4 linked regions of the Homo sapiens genome follow. The protein of the gene in region 2 purifies or fractionates together with the protein of the main gene of each other region. This does not show direct contact. Each region holds a gene or a part of one and is shown on either strand. Other genes may lie near its edges.

What was found. The genes of interacting proteins can lie anywhere in the genome.
Region 1: the proteins of DUOXA2 (region 2) and TMEM209 purify together in Homo sapiens (affinity purification with mass spectrometry; one large-scale study listed by BioGRID and IntAct). This does not show direct contact.
Region 3: the proteins of DUOXA2 (region 2) and CDH11 purify together in Homo sapiens (co-immunoprecipitation; one large-scale study listed by IntAct). This does not show direct contact.
Region 4: the proteins of DUOXA2 (region 2) and GRAMD1A purify together in Homo sapiens (co-immunoprecipitation; one large-scale study listed by IntAct). This does not show direct contact.

The regions. Positions count from the first base shown.
Region 1 is NC_000007.14:130,170,907-130,174,406, reverse strand, and holds part of TMEM209 (transmembrane protein 209), read left to right. Parts: intron 1-467; coding exon 468-582; intron 583-677; coding exon 678-775; intron 776-3,500. UniProt on the Homo sapiens protein: Nuclear envelope protein which in association with NUP205, may be involved in nuclear transport of various nuclear proteins in addition to MYC.
Region 2 is NC_000015.10:45,112,855-45,117,125, reverse strand, and holds the start of DUOXA2 (dual oxidase maturation factor 2), read right to left. Parts: upstream 2,801-4,271; 5' UTR 2,521-2,800; coding exon 2,374-2,520; intron 1,328-2,373; coding exon 1,270-1,327; intron 1,003-1,269; coding exon 868-1,002; intron 662-867; coding exon of another isoform or gene 611-661; coding exon 397-610; intron 36-396; coding exon 1-35. Other genes in the region: DUOX2 (dual oxidase 2 isoform 2 precursor), read left to right, coding at 3,715-3,784, 4,050-4,139. UniProt on the Homo sapiens protein: Required for the maturation and the transport from the endoplasmic reticulum to the plasma membrane of functional DUOX2. May play a role in thyroid hormone synthesis.
Region 3 is NC_000016.10:64,944,064-64,947,563, reverse strand, and holds part of CDH11 (cadherin-11 isoform 1 preproprotein), read left to right. Parts: 3' UTR 1-3,500. UniProt on the Homo sapiens protein: Cadherins are calcium-dependent cell adhesion proteins. They preferentially interact with themselves in a homophilic manner in connecting cells; cadherins may thus contribute to the sorting of heterogeneous cell types.
Region 4 is NC_000019.10:35,020,823-35,024,322, forward strand, and holds part of GRAMD1A (protein Aster-A), read left to right. Parts: intron 1-679; coding exon 680-783; intron 784-868; coding exon 869-1,042; intron 1,043-1,128; coding exon 1,129-1,216; intron 1,217-2,077; coding exon 2,078-2,089; intron 2,090-2,413; coding exon 2,414-2,521; intron 2,522-2,604; coding exon 2,605-2,725; intron 2,726-2,874; coding exon of another isoform or gene 2,875-2,919; exon of another isoform or gene 2,920-2,963; intron 2,964-3,500. UniProt on the Homo sapiens protein: Cholesterol transporter that mediates non-vesicular transport of cholesterol from the plasma membrane (PM) to the endoplasmic reticulum (ER).

The DNA.
Region 1 (3,500 bases), on a different chromosome or scaffold from region 2:
TCCACCCCTACCCTCAACAGATTATGGTAACTTCGTAGGCTGGAGTATTCAAACTTTTTCAATTTGAAAAGGAAACCTTCTCATCAAAATATAGACTGATTTGATGGCAAATATCTTTTTCTATTTTAAATTTTGAGTAGATTATTTGAATTAAGCCTAGCTTCATGTCTTAAACACACTGAATTCCTTTATGATTTAAGAGAGGAATTAGTGAATTCCTTATCTTTGTAGGAAATAATACTTTCAGTTAAAAGAATAGGTGTGCTACCTGAACTATGTGTTTTTATCTTTTTATTCTATAGATTTTATCTTGTAAATCTAACCATTTGACAGCATTTTTCTAATTCACTCTTCAGAGAAAAAATTTTTTAATTGGAATCGTTATAAATACAGATGTTTCTAAAGGGTTCTACATCCATGCTAGATTTTCATGCTGACTTAAAAAAAAATTATTTCTTCATCCTCAGATCATCATGCATGTATTTTGCACCTACCTTGATTCCAGATTACCTCCACATCCGAAGTATCCCGACGGAAAAACTTTTACTTCTCAGCACTTTGTTCAGACACCAAATAAACCAGGTATAAACCTCTCCTAAAAGAATGTGTTGAGATTTTCACACAAAATATCTCTGGGGGTTTGGTTTTTTAATGCAGCATATTGCCTTCCTTTACAGATGTTACAAATGAGAATGTTTTTTGCATTTATCAGAGTGCTATCAACCCTCCCCATTATGAGCTCATCTACCAGCGTCATGTATACAACCTGCCAAAGGTATTTCTATATAGAGAAGATGCTGTTACAGAATGTCTTGGGTGATTTGCTTGGATGATGTTTTTAAAATTATAATCTCATGTTAATAGAAGAAGTAAATTTTTTAAATTGGAAATGTGTTTCCTACATATATATTTCTTACTATAAAAGTAATATGTGCTTAATTTGGGGAAAGTATAAAGAAAAAGAAGGAAAATCACTCATTCCATTACCTGAGGCAGTCATTGTTGATTTTTTGATTGGTATATTGCCTTTTGGTAAATTTCATTTTGGTCTTATGTCTCTTTTTAGAGGCAGAGTCTAGCTCTGTCACCCAGGCTGGAGTGTAGTGGCATGATCATAGCTCATTGTAGCCTTGAACTCATGGGCTCAAGAAGTCCTTCCACCTCAGCCTCCCAAGTAGCTAGGACTACAAGCACGTACTAGTATACCTGGCCAATTTATTTTTTGTAGAGACAGAGTCTCTCCATGTTACTCAGGCTGGTCCTGTGCACCTGGCCCTTTCTTTATATTTTTTATGGGCTAAAATTATTTATGTAGTTTTATATCTGCTTTTAAATATTAGCTTTATAACATAATTTTCCATACTATTAAAAATCTTCATAAAAATTCCTTTTTTTTTTTTTTTTTTTTGAGATAGAGTCTCACTCTGTTACCCAGGCTGGAGTGCAGTGGTGCAATCTTGGCTCACTGCAACCTCTGCCTCCCGGGTTCCAGCAATTCTCCTGCCTCAGCCTCCCAAGTAGCTGGGATTACAGGCACCCGCCACCACACCCGGCTATTTTTTTGTATTTTAGTAGAGATGGGGTTTCACCATGTTGGCCAGGCTGGTCTCAAACTCCTGAGCTCAGGCAGTCTGCCCACCTCGGCCTCCCAAAGTGCTGGGATTACAGGCATAAGCCACCATGCCCGGCCTAAAAATACTTCTTAATGGCTATAAAAAAAACTTCACTAGTATAATTTATTCAACCATTTCTCTACTGTTGTACATTTTCTGTATTTCTTATTTTTTATTATAAATACTACTGAAAAGGTAGAGGCAGGCAGATCACGAAGTCAGGAGATCGAGACCATCCTGGCTAACACAGTGAAACCCTGTCTCTACTAAAAATACAAAAAAAATTATCCGGGCATGGCAGCATGCACCTGTAGTCCCAGCTGCTGAGGAGGCTGAGGCAGGAGAATGGCGTGAACCCAGGAGGCGGAGCTTGCAGTGAGCCGAGATCACGCCACTGCACTCCAGCCTGGGTGGCAGAGCAAGACTCCGTCTCAAAAAAATAAATAAAATAAAATAAATAAATACTGCTGAAAATGTATCTTCATGCATACAGCTATCTGCATTTCTTTAGTCCAGAGTTCTAAAAGTGGAATTCTAGGTCAAAATATTTTTAAGACTTTAAAAATAACATGTTACCAAATTACTTTATAATAAAGGTTATTGTATCAATTTATACTTCCATTAATGTGCTTTACTTTTTTTTTGAGGTAGTCTTGCTGTGTTGCTTAGGCTAGTATCACATTCCTGGGTTCAAGCAATCCTGACTCAGCCTCTTGAGTAGCTAAGATTACAAGCACATACAGATTTTTTACTCTTTTTTTGAGACAGAGTCTTGCTCTGTCACCCAGGCTGGAGTGCAGTGGTGTGATCTCGGCTCACTGCAACCTCCGCCTCCCAGGTTCAAGCGATTCTCCTGCCTCAGCCTCCTGAGTAGCTGGGACTACAGGCGCGTGCCACCACGCTTGGCTAATTTTTTTTGTATTTTTAGTAAGAGACGGGGGTTTTACTGTGTTAGCCAGGATGGTCTTGATCTCCTGACCTCGTGATCCGCCTGCCTTGCCCACCCAAAGTGCTGGGATGATAACAGGCATGAGCTGCCACACTGGTTTTTTACTCTTAATTACAAGCATCAGTTCTGTTGATAACCTTTACAATTATTTTTGTTACCAGCATCTTTACTAAGAAATTTTACATTGGCTATAATAATAAATTGTGCTGTCTATCAGATTCTCAGGAAGAGATGTTAATTTCATTTCTTCAAGTTTAATATTTTAGCTTTGTATGTAAATACTTTGGGCCATTGAAGTTCTTGTGAATATCCATGCCAATCTTTGTTTTTTAACCACCATCTGTTTTTTTTTCCTTGTTCTTACAGTGTAAACATTATCTTTTAAAAATCATACATTCTCTCAGATTCTTGAGTTAAAAACACATTAAATTAGAGTAAGTGGGGAAAAGTTAATCTGTAAATTGAAAATCTAAATTAGGAGCTGTTTTTACAGACCAAAAATTACATATAATAGTTTGATTTTAGAGCTAGCAATATGCTGCCTAGTATTCCCTTGCAGATAAAATAAATTTATATTTAATATGTTATTTGTATGCTAAAGTATATTCTGATATATTTTAAAGTATGACTAAAAGCTTTTTTTATCCCAACACTTGTTTATGCCATTATAGACCATTTTTATATGTGTAGTGTACAGGGGCACCAACCTCAGAATAGCTCTCCAGGCTCTTCCAGACCTTAGTAAGTGTTTCTCCCCATGTGTGAAACACAGTCCCCCAGCTCCCCACCCCCCAGTATGTTACCTTTCTGCTCATCTTTCAGGTTGCAGCTTAAAATACAAAAAAAAAATTAGCCGGGCATGGCGGTGGGCGCCTGTGGTCCCAGCTACTTGGGAGGCTGAGGCAGGAGAATGACGTGAACCCAGGAGATGGAGGTTG
Region 2 (4,271 bases):
GCACGTTGGAGAGGAGCCAGAAGCAGAACGCCACCCTGCCGGGGAGTGGGGGGACCCGCTGTGAGCGGGCTTCTCCCAGCCCACCGGGGTTCCCACAGCTGCGCTCTTCTTTATCCCTACCCCAGCGTCAAAGCCAGGGACTGGGATGGCAGCGGTGCAGGGGAATTCCCCGGGGGAGAAGCGGGCTCCTGAGGTCCAGGCGGTGGCTGGAGTCTCTCCGGATTCCGTCTGTGCAGATCTCGTGGATCTTCTAACCCGCGAGGCTGTCATGCCCACCCCGAGCGCGTCGGGTCTGGCTGCAGCTGCTCAGCGCCTCCGAGGCCTGCATCCTCCCGCTCATACGGCCCAGCTCCTGGCACACACACACGTGCACACAGCCTTCCCTCCAGCACTTACCATAGCGTGGCCGAGGCGTAGTGTCCCGCCAGGTGGTACTGGTGGTACAGGCCGCAAGGGCTACTCGGTGTGAACTTCTCCGCCAGGTAGAGCACTGGGTCCGGCAGCCCCTTCTCCAGTGCGTTCGCGTACTCCGCGGCGTAATTCTCTTTCAGACGCCAGGTGAACTGCTCGTTGTAGTCAATGGTCTCGTTCAGCTGATGCACTGGGGTCCCTGTGGGGTGAGGCGGGCTCATGGGGCTGCCCGCGGTCGGAGACCTCGCAACTAAGCGGATTCAGACAGGAAAGTGGGGGTGTGGCGCTCTCGGCGGGAGAAATGGGTTCGGTGGTGGTTGGAGAAAACGCAAATCCACGAGGACCACAAGCTATTTGAGCTTGTGGGATGTGAGAGGCCCTCCAGCTATCCCTGACACACTCACCTAACCGGGGATCTCCCAGCTCCAGGAGTTCATTTAGCCCCAGCCCCCTCACCTGTGAGTGTAATATTAATGCCCTCCAGGCCCACGAGCAGACGGACACGGGCTGTAACGCGCGCTGCGCTGAAGGCTTTGTAGGATGTGTTGGTGTTCACTGTACCCACGAACCATTCTGCACTGAAGTGCACAGCTGTAGGGAAAGGCACACGGTGGGGGTGGGATGAGGGTGGGAAAATGGAATTAGAGAGTGGTATGGGAGGTGGGACACTGCAGAGAGATGGGGACTTAGAGGTCCAATGTGGTTGCATGGTAAGGGCCAAAAAGTGGGCCCTAGAAGGAGCTGGAGAGTGGGAAGAGGGAGCAGAAAACCAACCCCAGTTCCCTATTGTCCCAGGTGCCCTCTGCCCACCTCCTTCCTCACCCCGTCCTCTCCCCATGGGCTGCACCACACACTCACCCACAATTTCTGCGCCTATGAACAGACTGAGAAGAACTCTCACCAACCAAAACCAGCGCTGCAGGAATAGGCACCCGGGTCAGGCCTGAGCCCTGCCAAACCAGAGTCCCCAAGACCACCCTTGACCCCACTTCACCTGGATCTTTAGTTATATCCAGACTTTTGAGACTAATGTTAGGCACGCTTTTCCTGCAAGTCCCTCTGGGCTACTGGCATTTCTGATATTTTGTGACCACGCACTTTCACCTCCCTAGCCCCATTTCCCATCTACCCTAACAGCACCTCCCCTCCACCCCCACTTCCTGGCACTCTTCCACCACCTTCACTCCCCTAGCTGTCTGGCGCCTGGTCCTGGTTCTGCCTCCTGGTCCAGTCACTGCTTGGTGAGGCTCAGTGAGTCCAGAAGTGCTAGGCACGCAGGGGTCACCTCCCTCAGAAGAGGGAGGCCCCAGCCTGATCTCCGAGGGGAGGAGGTGGGAATGCAGATACTCCTAGGTGCACCAGTTCCAGGGAAAGCAACACAGATTAAGATGCAGAAAAGCTGGGTCCTCCCAGAACTGAAAAATGCACAACCTAGGTTCTGGGAGAGGGGGAAAGTCTAAGACAATGCACCCAGTTGGCTCCAACTTCTAATCCAATGTGGGAGTCTCAGTCCTGAGGATGAGGCACCCATACACATGTGTCTCAACCCAGTGCAAAGGGGAACACTGCAGTCTGAGCTGCTGGCATCTGTCCTTTTGGCCTGAAGGTCATCACCCACCGGATGGGATGAGAGTGCAGCTTTAGTCCTGGGAGAGGTGGGAGGCCCTCCAGCACAAGAAGCCTAGACTGTTCCTCAGGATTACTGGACTGGGTGCCCATTCTCTGCAGCAGCCTTCCCAAGGACCCAGCTGGGGTCCTTCTCCAGGATATCCTGGATGGGGAGCTCTCCCTATCCTTGGAAAGGGGTGCTTGCTGCACCAGACTCCTGACTTCACTCCACCTGAGCCTCAATTCGACTATTCATGGAGGCTCTTGTACAGTCTTACCTGTCCTGGGTCCCTCAGGAGACAATCTGCCCATGAGCCTTCCCCCACTCTACCTGCACTATGAGGACACCCTTACCGAGTGGCCACGGATCCCCGGCAAGATGAGCAGGAAGCTTGCTGCTAGAGCCAAAAACACTAGAATAACGATGAGCAGTGGAACGCTGAAGCCTGCGGCATGCCGGGGCTGGGGGTAAAAAGGCAGTACGCCGTTCCACAGGGTCATGCTGCACGCCGGCCGAGTGCTGCACGCAGGCGGGCAGGCAAGCCAGCAAGCTGGGGCTGCCTGGACGCGGGAGAGCGCGTCCTTGGCGTCTCTTTGCGTACAAGGCTGGGACCGAGTGGGCTGGTGAAGTCTGAGTCCTGCACCTCTCCGTTAAGGAAGCGTGGAGGTGGGCTGCTCTCAACGCTCTGGGGTTGGTACCGACAGAGTTTTTCTAGCCGGCGAGCGAAACTATTTCTCACTGTCTGTAGCCGTTACTTTCCTGGTTCTGCGGGTTGGCGCTGAGTTTGGAAGTCGCGCGGGACCCCTTTTATAGCAGCGTGGGCGACGTGCCACACGGGTGTCCCAGCCCAGGGGCTGGTCTGAGCTGGAAGAGGTTGTGCAAATAAGGGCCCCACCTCCACGGCAGGAGGGTGAGCCCTAGGTCCAGATGCTCACACTGGCGCAGGTCTGTCCTGAGCCGACACCTGCACAGTGGCGAGACCAAGGACCCAGAGAGAAAGGTGAGAGTGCAGCCGGGGAGGCTGAGGATCGGCGGAGCTGGAAGAGTGAGGGTGAAGGCAAGAAGTAGAGCACAGAAGCAAAGATTTTAAGAGGAAAGAAGACATCTGAACCCAACACCACCCTAAACCACAGGTTAGACCAGAGTTTGGGATCTGACCCTAGCCCTCGCCCATCATGCACAGGCGTTCATTGCAGAAGGGGAGTTTATTGGGGAAGGGGGGATTCATTGTGGAAGGGTGCTGCAGTCCCTCACTCCCAGGTCAGTAACCTTTTTCCCTTCCCTGCCTCCTGGAGGAGAAGCGGAGCCTGACGGATCGGGGGCGGGTGGAGGTGAAACATTGGAGACATTGGGCACACCCTGGGAGGCTTGACCAGTCCTGCCCTGGACTGACATGCCCCAGAAGACTCCTGCCCAGTGGGTTCCTATGGTCGGGGGTTAACTCTCTGATGGGGTGGCGGATGGGGAACAGTGTCAATGCCTCCAGAGCTGCCAATTGTCCTGGAAAGAGTGGCGTTTGGATGAAGGTCCTCGGTGATGCTTCTAACAGCTACCTTCCAGAAGTGGAAACAGCTGGTGCTCCTCCTCCAGTACTAGCTGTAGGAACAAGAGGGGAGGCATAGAGGACGCCCTAACAGTGGCTTTCGCATACCACCTACCACCCCCACCCTCACCCCGCAGGCTGCAGGGTTGGCATGCTCCGTGCAAGACCAGAGGCACTGATGCTCCTGGGAGCTCTTCTGACTGGATCCCTGGGTCCATCGGGCAAGTATCAGGCTCCTCTAGCGGCGGGGTGTTCCCCAGGATCCCTGGGAGGTGGGGCGGGGAGAGGTGCGGCAAGCGGCTCCCTGAGACTGGAAGGTCATTTCGCCGTGCAGCTCAGCGGGATGGGAAACTTCCCAGTGCGGCCCGACACTTGGGTCCGGTTAGGGGCGCTCCGCGAGCTGGGGAAGGACTGGCCAAGGCCTTCGTTGCTCGGGAGGGGTAGCTGGGAGCGTAGTGCTGAGGAGGCCCTTCTCTGTGCCCACAGGCAGTCAGGACGCACTCTCACTGCCCTGGGAAGTGCAGCGCTATGACGGCTGGTTTAACAACCTGAGGCACCACGAGCGTGGTGCTGTTGGTGCGTTCTGGGGGCCCGGGCGTGCTGGGGCCGTGGCTCGCGAAGGGCCGGGGCGCGAAAGGCCCTGAGCGGGGAATCTGCGGGGAACACGCGCCCAGCAGCTCCGCTGCCTACACAGCGCAATCTTATGCG
Region 3 (3,500 bases), on a different chromosome or scaffold from region 2:
CGTTCTCAAGAATCTAGAAGATGTGTAAACAGGTATTTTTTTAAATCAAGGAAAGGCTCATTTAAAACAGGCAAAGTTTTACAGAGAGGATACATTTAATAAAACTGCGAGGACATCAAAGTGGTAAATACTGTGAAATACCTTTTCTCACAAAAAGGCAAATATTGAAGTTGTTTATCAACTTCGCTAGAAAAAAAAAACACTTGGCATACAAAATATTTAAGTGAAGGAGAAGTCTAACGCTGAACTGACAATGAAGGGAAATTGTTTATGTGTTATGAACATCCAAGTCTTTCTTCTTTTTTAAGTTGTCAAAGAAGCTTCCACAAAATTAGAAAGGACAACAGTTCTGAGCTGTAATTTCGCCTTAAACTCTGGACACTCTATATGTAGTGCATTTTTAAACTTGAAATATATAATATTCAGCCAGCTTAAACCCATACAATGTATGTACAATACAATGTACAATTATGTCTCTTGAGCATCAATCTTGTTACTGCTGATTCTTGTAAATCTTTTTGCTTCTACTTTCATCTTAAACTAATACGTGCCAGATATAACTGTCTTGTTTCAGTGAGAGACGCCCTATTTCTATGTCATTTTTAATGTATCTATTTGTACAATTTTAAAGTTCTTATTTTAGTATACGTATAAATATCAGTATTCTGACATGTAAGAAAATGTTACGGCATCACACTTATATTTTATGAACATTGTACTGTTGCTTTAATATGAGCTTCAATATAAGAAGCAATCTTTGAAATAAAAAAAGATTTTTTTTTAATTCTGGGTTTGATTCTTAACATTGAAACAAACGTTAAGTATTTCTAATGATCCATTTATATTTCTAATTTAATTGTGATCTTTTAATAACCCTATTTATGATCTGTTGTTGTCTGTCTGCTGCTTTTATTGTTTATTTAAAATCAAATATGTTTTACAAATGTTTTTTCAGACAAGATTCTGTAACATCATGTAAAGCTTTTTTGTACATTCTTGGTGTTAACCTCCTGGCTTCTCTTCACACACATCTTCTAAAAAAGAAGGATGTGAAAGAACTAGGTCAGTCTATGACTTTGCAATATGTGTTATATAGTATGCATTTATCTTGTATATCAGTAATTTGATGGTTATGAGAGATGAATCCATGAGGGAATGGAGCTATCAGAACTCTAATGTTCCAGGTATACATTCTATGCCCCACACTGAGCACTGGGGAACTGGGGGACTAGAGTCAAAAATATAAATTTGCCCAGACTCTAATGTTATTCTATTTTTTCTTCTGTTGAACTTACCAGGCTATTGTAAGACTCTTGATAGTTGAAACTGCTTATTTTTCCTCCTGTAATTTTAACTAATTGTAAAATGATGTGGCATTTTATGTTTTAATGAGAATGGGCGATTCATTTAAAAAAGCTTTGTTTAGAATATGCTTGGGGCCGTAAGCTCAGAATGAGGGCAGGGACCATTTTGGATTCTGAGAGTCGATGCCATTTGGTCCAGGAGTGTGTCTACAGTCCCCTGCATTCCAGCTAGTTTCTTGGGGATTGAAACTTATGTGAAGGGCATTTCACCTGTTCAGTTGGGCCAAAGGTCAAAACGTAGCAATACTTGGGGAAAGACCACATAAAGTCACACTGCAAGTGCTTTCCCTCTTTCCCCCTACACACAGGGCACGTGCTTTTTCTTGGATTGCAGACAATTTTTACAGTTTTTTTCTGACTTTATTGTGAAAGTTTGTTTCAAGCATTTCTTGATATCATGTTATGTACTATTTTTATGATTTAGTCAACATGCATACAAAGAAATGTTTTTTATGAAGTGCTCACTTCCATTTTACTTTGCATTGAAATCAAATTGGGCTGAACACTTCAATGGAATACATTTTGTGGACAATGTCACTTTAGAATCTTTCATCTCAGTGAAGGATTACACATTCTCAATACTTCCATAATTGCAGGTTGTGTTCATTTTTTTATATAGTTTTTGTAATCCAAAGAATATTTTGCTAGATTTGCACAGATCTCCAATTGAATTTGCAATGAAGAAATAACTCAAAAGGAATATGAATAGCATTTAAATAAGTATACAGCTGTAAGTAACCCTGTCACCATGGATGATCCTTTTCTCTAGGAATGTATTTGGATTAGAGATGACAACTACATTTTCGCATTTTTATGTTGAAGTCTTTTTTAAAAAGGCTGTTTACTTTTCAGTAGTTAAGAATACTTGTTTTTCTTTTTCTTTTTTTTTTTTTTTTTTACCTTTTATTTTTTCGTTAAGCCTCTATTGTTTGTAGAACACTCTTAGAAACTTGGAAATAAAATGTCTTTCCCAACTAGTGGAGTCCTTTTTCATTTGGAGCACATTGCCTTAAAAGAAGTCTTAATTTAAACGGTCCTTCCTTATTCTAAAGTAATCACTGTTTTATACCATCTATGCAGCTAAAAGAAGGAACATGCTTCTGTTCTTTTCCTCAAGTAATGGTTATTGTTTCTAGTCATCATTCATTCATTGATTCATTCATTAATTCATCAAAATCTTATTTTATAAACCCTGTTCCACTTACTGGAGGATTCAGAATGAATCTTACTACCTTTTCTGACATCTTTTGATAATTCAGCCCTGTACCAAAGTATCCACCTTGTTGTCTTATAATCACCTATTTACCTATTTGCCCTCCTAGAAAATGCAAGAAGATATTTTCTCTCCTTCCAAATTGAAGGAAGAACATAAAAGATATAACAGGAAGGAGATGGTGAGATATAGAGTGTGAGCGGAAATTAGGCCAGCTGTGGCAATTCTGGACAGATCTTGGGTTTAGCTAAGTTATTTCTTTTAGGCCTGGGTTTCTGGGGGTGACAGGGAAGATAAAAGAGTAGTTTATTTGCACCTCTTGGAGAATTGCTTAAAAATATAGAGATCATGGCTCTGTATGTCAGGTGGAACCAGGTCAGGAGTATTTGAAACTGCTCCTGGGTCATTGTGACATATCCTTCACATCTTTTTGAGAAACTTTATAAGACAATGGGGGTGAATGGGGGCTGGGCAGTTGGAGTCTCTGAGCAGAAGAGGGGCAAAATTTATTTGGCAGGCAGTGTGGAGGACAGATTAGGAGCATATAAACCCAGAGGTGTGCCCCAGGAGGGCTTTTGCAAAGGTCAATATGAGATAGAATGAGGGCCTGAAATAATTCAGTAATTTGGAGATGGAGAAGAGGAAAGACTTCTCTGCTCTTGCACTGCCATCAGCCTGGTCTGGGCCATGGTCATCTCTGACCCGGAAGACTGACCCCACCTCTTGGCTCACCCTCTGCCTCCCAACCTCCTCTTCACAAAGAAGCCAGAGGGATACTTTTAACACACAACCCAGATCACATGACTTCGTAACTTAAACCTCTTCACTGGCTTCCCAAAGACTTAAAATGAATTCTGATGCCTTTATTTTATTGCTTTACATGAACAGGGCCCTGCGAACCTCTCCAGTGTCATTCCACTCCA
Region 4 (3,500 bases), on a different chromosome or scaffold from region 2:
CAGACTGCAAAGACAGGTACAGGAGCAGGGAGGCCAGGGAGGAGGCTGCTGGGACATCCAGGCTGGAGGGGACGGAGGCTGAATCAGGGTGAGGAAATGGAGGGGGAAGAGTTTAGATTCTGGAGAGATTTTGCAGGTTTAGCTGACAGGATTTGCTGAGAGATTGGATGTGGCGGTGAGGGAAAGAGAGCTCAAGGAATATCCCGAGGCATTTGGCCCAAATCACTACAACTTCGGAGCTGCCCTTGACCCAGATGGGGGCGGCAGGGAGGAATGGGTTTGGGGAAAGACCAGGAGGTCAGTTTGGGACTCAGCTGTCTATGTTGAGCTGAGCCCATGTGGAGCTGGGGTGCAGCAGCCGAATGGAAGAGGTTCAGGGGCATGGTCTGGTTAAGACGTCAGTCTGTGAGTAGACAGGGCTCAGGCCGCCGGGAGCGTTGCCCAGGTAGTGGGCATGGGTGGAGAAGGACCGAGGGCTGAGTTGGCTGGCATTTGGGCTGGGCGGGTGGTGTATGGGGTATCCAGGGAAGCCATGGGGGGTAGGGAACCCATCTGTTTTGTCTGTGAGTGACAAGGGGCCCTCTCTGAATTAGGGGAAGGAAAAAACTCAGCTTGTGGGACGGGGCAGCCAGGGCTGGAGTCAGACCCTTACCTCCTTCCCCTGATCTCCCAACCCCAGAGTGTCTTCTGAGATCCGCTACCGAAAGCAGCCGTGGAGCCTGGTGAAGTCGCTCATTGAGAAGAACTCGTGGAGCGGCATTGAAGACTATTTCCACCATCTGGGTAGGGACAGAAGGCCGGCTGGGGCGTGGGTTGGGGGATGGCCTGGCCAGGTATGGACATCCAGAGCCCCCTCTCTTTTACGCAGAGCGAGAGCTCGCCAAGGCTGAGAAGCTGTCTCTGGAGGAAGGCGGGAAGGATGCCCGGGGCTTGCTATCCGGCCTGCGGCGGCGGAAGCGGCCCCTGAGCTGGCGGGCTCACGGGGACGGGCCCCAGCACCCAGATCCTGACCCCTGTGCCCGGGCCGGCATTCACACCTCGGGTACGTTCCGTTGGGGCCGGGTTGGGGTAGGCGGAGGATCGGGGGTCCTGGACTGGGCCATCTGACTCCAAGCTGCTCTCCTGCAGGCTCCCTCAGCTCCCGCTTCTCCGAACCATCTGTGGACCAGGGCCCCGGGGCAGGCATCCCCAGTGCCCTGGTTCTCATCAGCATTGTGTGAGTAAGAGACAGGAGCAGTGGCCACACAGGCCTGAACCTGCCTCCTGGCTGTGTGACCTTGGGCAAGTGTGTGGCCTCTTTGAGCTCTCTGCTTAAGTGGGAGCGTGGGTTTGCTCACAGCAAGGATTAGACAAGGCAATGTTTGGGATGTGCCGGTTTGTCATGGAGAAGCCTTCCCTGCTAGAACAGCAGAGCCGGGGGGGGCTATGGGAGATCAGAGGGGCCTGACCTCACCCAAGGATCAAGGGGGGCTTTCTGGAGGAGCAGGCACACAAAGATTCTGGAATTAGGTGCACAGGGAGAGGTGTGCCTAACAAGTGAGGTCATTTATGGACATTATGTTCTCTGTGCCCACTCCTAAGCTGGGCGATGCTGAGGACACCGCAGTGACCTTGAGGAAAAGATAGACCTCACACCAGACCAGAGTGATCCGGGCTGGGATGGGGGAGGTATGGGCAGAGGGGTTGGGGCTGGGAGTGGGGAAGCCCTGGGAGGCCAGCGGCGGCTTCCTCCCAGGCCAGAGGGGGCAGTCAGGATGGGCGTCCTGAGAGAGTGGAGACCGCGTAGGCTAAGGGCTTGGGCAGGGAGAACCCACACTCCTGCCCAGAAGCCTGCAGGAGTTGGCGGGCAGGACGCTGGGAGGAAACAGAAGCAGGATCCCGGGGTTGAGCAGACCCTGCGAGGTGAGGGTCAGGCCAGCTACATGCTCAGCCTCTGAGCCTCAGCTCTCAGCTCTCATCCAGTGAGGGGGCGTGGTGCTCTCAGCCAAGAGCTGCCCCGGGTGAGGAGGGCTGGGGGTGTCGGGGGCAGGCCAGGCGGCGCTCATCTCTCTGTCTCCCCTCACTGCTGCTGCTGCAGGATCTGTGTGAGGTAGGGTCCCGAGTCCTCCCCCTGCCCTCCCCTCCCTGCACCCCACCCCTGCTGCAGCCTCTTCTCCCCACCCCATGCCCCCCAGCTCCCCCAGGGAGGTGGCCTGGCATGGCAGTCAAGGGTATGGGCATCAGACAGACCTGGGTTTGAACACTGACTTCCCTGCTATGGACTGTGCAACCCTAGGCATGTCTCTCATCCTCTCTGAGCCTAATTCTCCTCCTCTGCAATGGGGGATAGAGGTGTCCCTACAAGATGTAGTTGTTTGGGGGTGTTCAGAGCATCTAGACCCCAGGAATCCTGACCTCTGACCCCTGTCCCCAGCCTTATCATCCTCATCGCCCTCAACGTCCTGCTCTTCTACCGCCTCTGGTCCCTGGAAAGGACAGCCCACACCTTTGAGTCCTGGCACAGCCTGGCCCTGGCCAAGGGGTGAGTGGGTAGCCTGGGGAAATGGGGGGGCTTGGGCACATCGGGGGAGGCCAAGGCCCTGCTCAGGCCTGGCATCCCCACAGCAAGTTCCCCCAGACGGCCACAGAGTGGGCCGAGATCCTGGCGCTGCAGAAGCAATTCCACAGCGTGGAGGTGCACAAGTGGAGGCAGATCCTGCGGGCCTCCGTGGAGCTCCTGGATGAGGTAGGAGGCGCCGCTCGGGCAGGGCTCGGGGCTGCGGGGCTGCAGGGTCCTGTGTTGAAACCCCACCGTGCGGCAGGCACTTCCCCTCTCCGGATCTCAGTGTCCTCCTCTGTAAAATGAGGAAGCCGCTCAGAGTCCCCACCCCACAGCATTGCAGGGGAAAGCATGGAAGCATGGATGGAAGACAGAACTGATTGGCTCACGTCCTGGAGAAAAGTCCAGAGGCGTCTCACATTAGGCACGGCCGGGTTTGGTCACTCAATGGCAGTAAGAGTCAGTCTCTCGTGCCCACTCTGCCCTGTGCCCATCTCCAGGGTTGGCTTCATTGGAGGCCACCCTTTTCCCCCCACAGGGGACCACGGAGCTTACTCTCATTGGCTGCTGGGGTCCCAGGCCTACCCCTGACACATCACAACAGCCAGGGCAGGCCACGTGTGGTCCCTCTACCCGCTACCCCACTCTGGGGTAACTAAGGGGTCACATGGTCTGAAGGGGAGAGACTCTCCAAAGGACCTGAGGTCTCATCTCCAAAACGGAGTGGACCCAGACACCCAGTGTAGTTCAGGGACAATGTCTACTCAGACAACCAGGTTCCAATTCCGGTGTGTGACCTCGTGCAAGTGATTTTGCCATGGTGGCCGTGGACTCCTCTGTGCACAGGATAATGACTGATGCTACCTCAAAGACTGTTGTGAGGATGAGACAAGTTGACATTGGGAGTGGTGCCAGGCCTGCAGGAAACACTGGATGTGGGCTGGCTGTCCTGAGTTTGAGC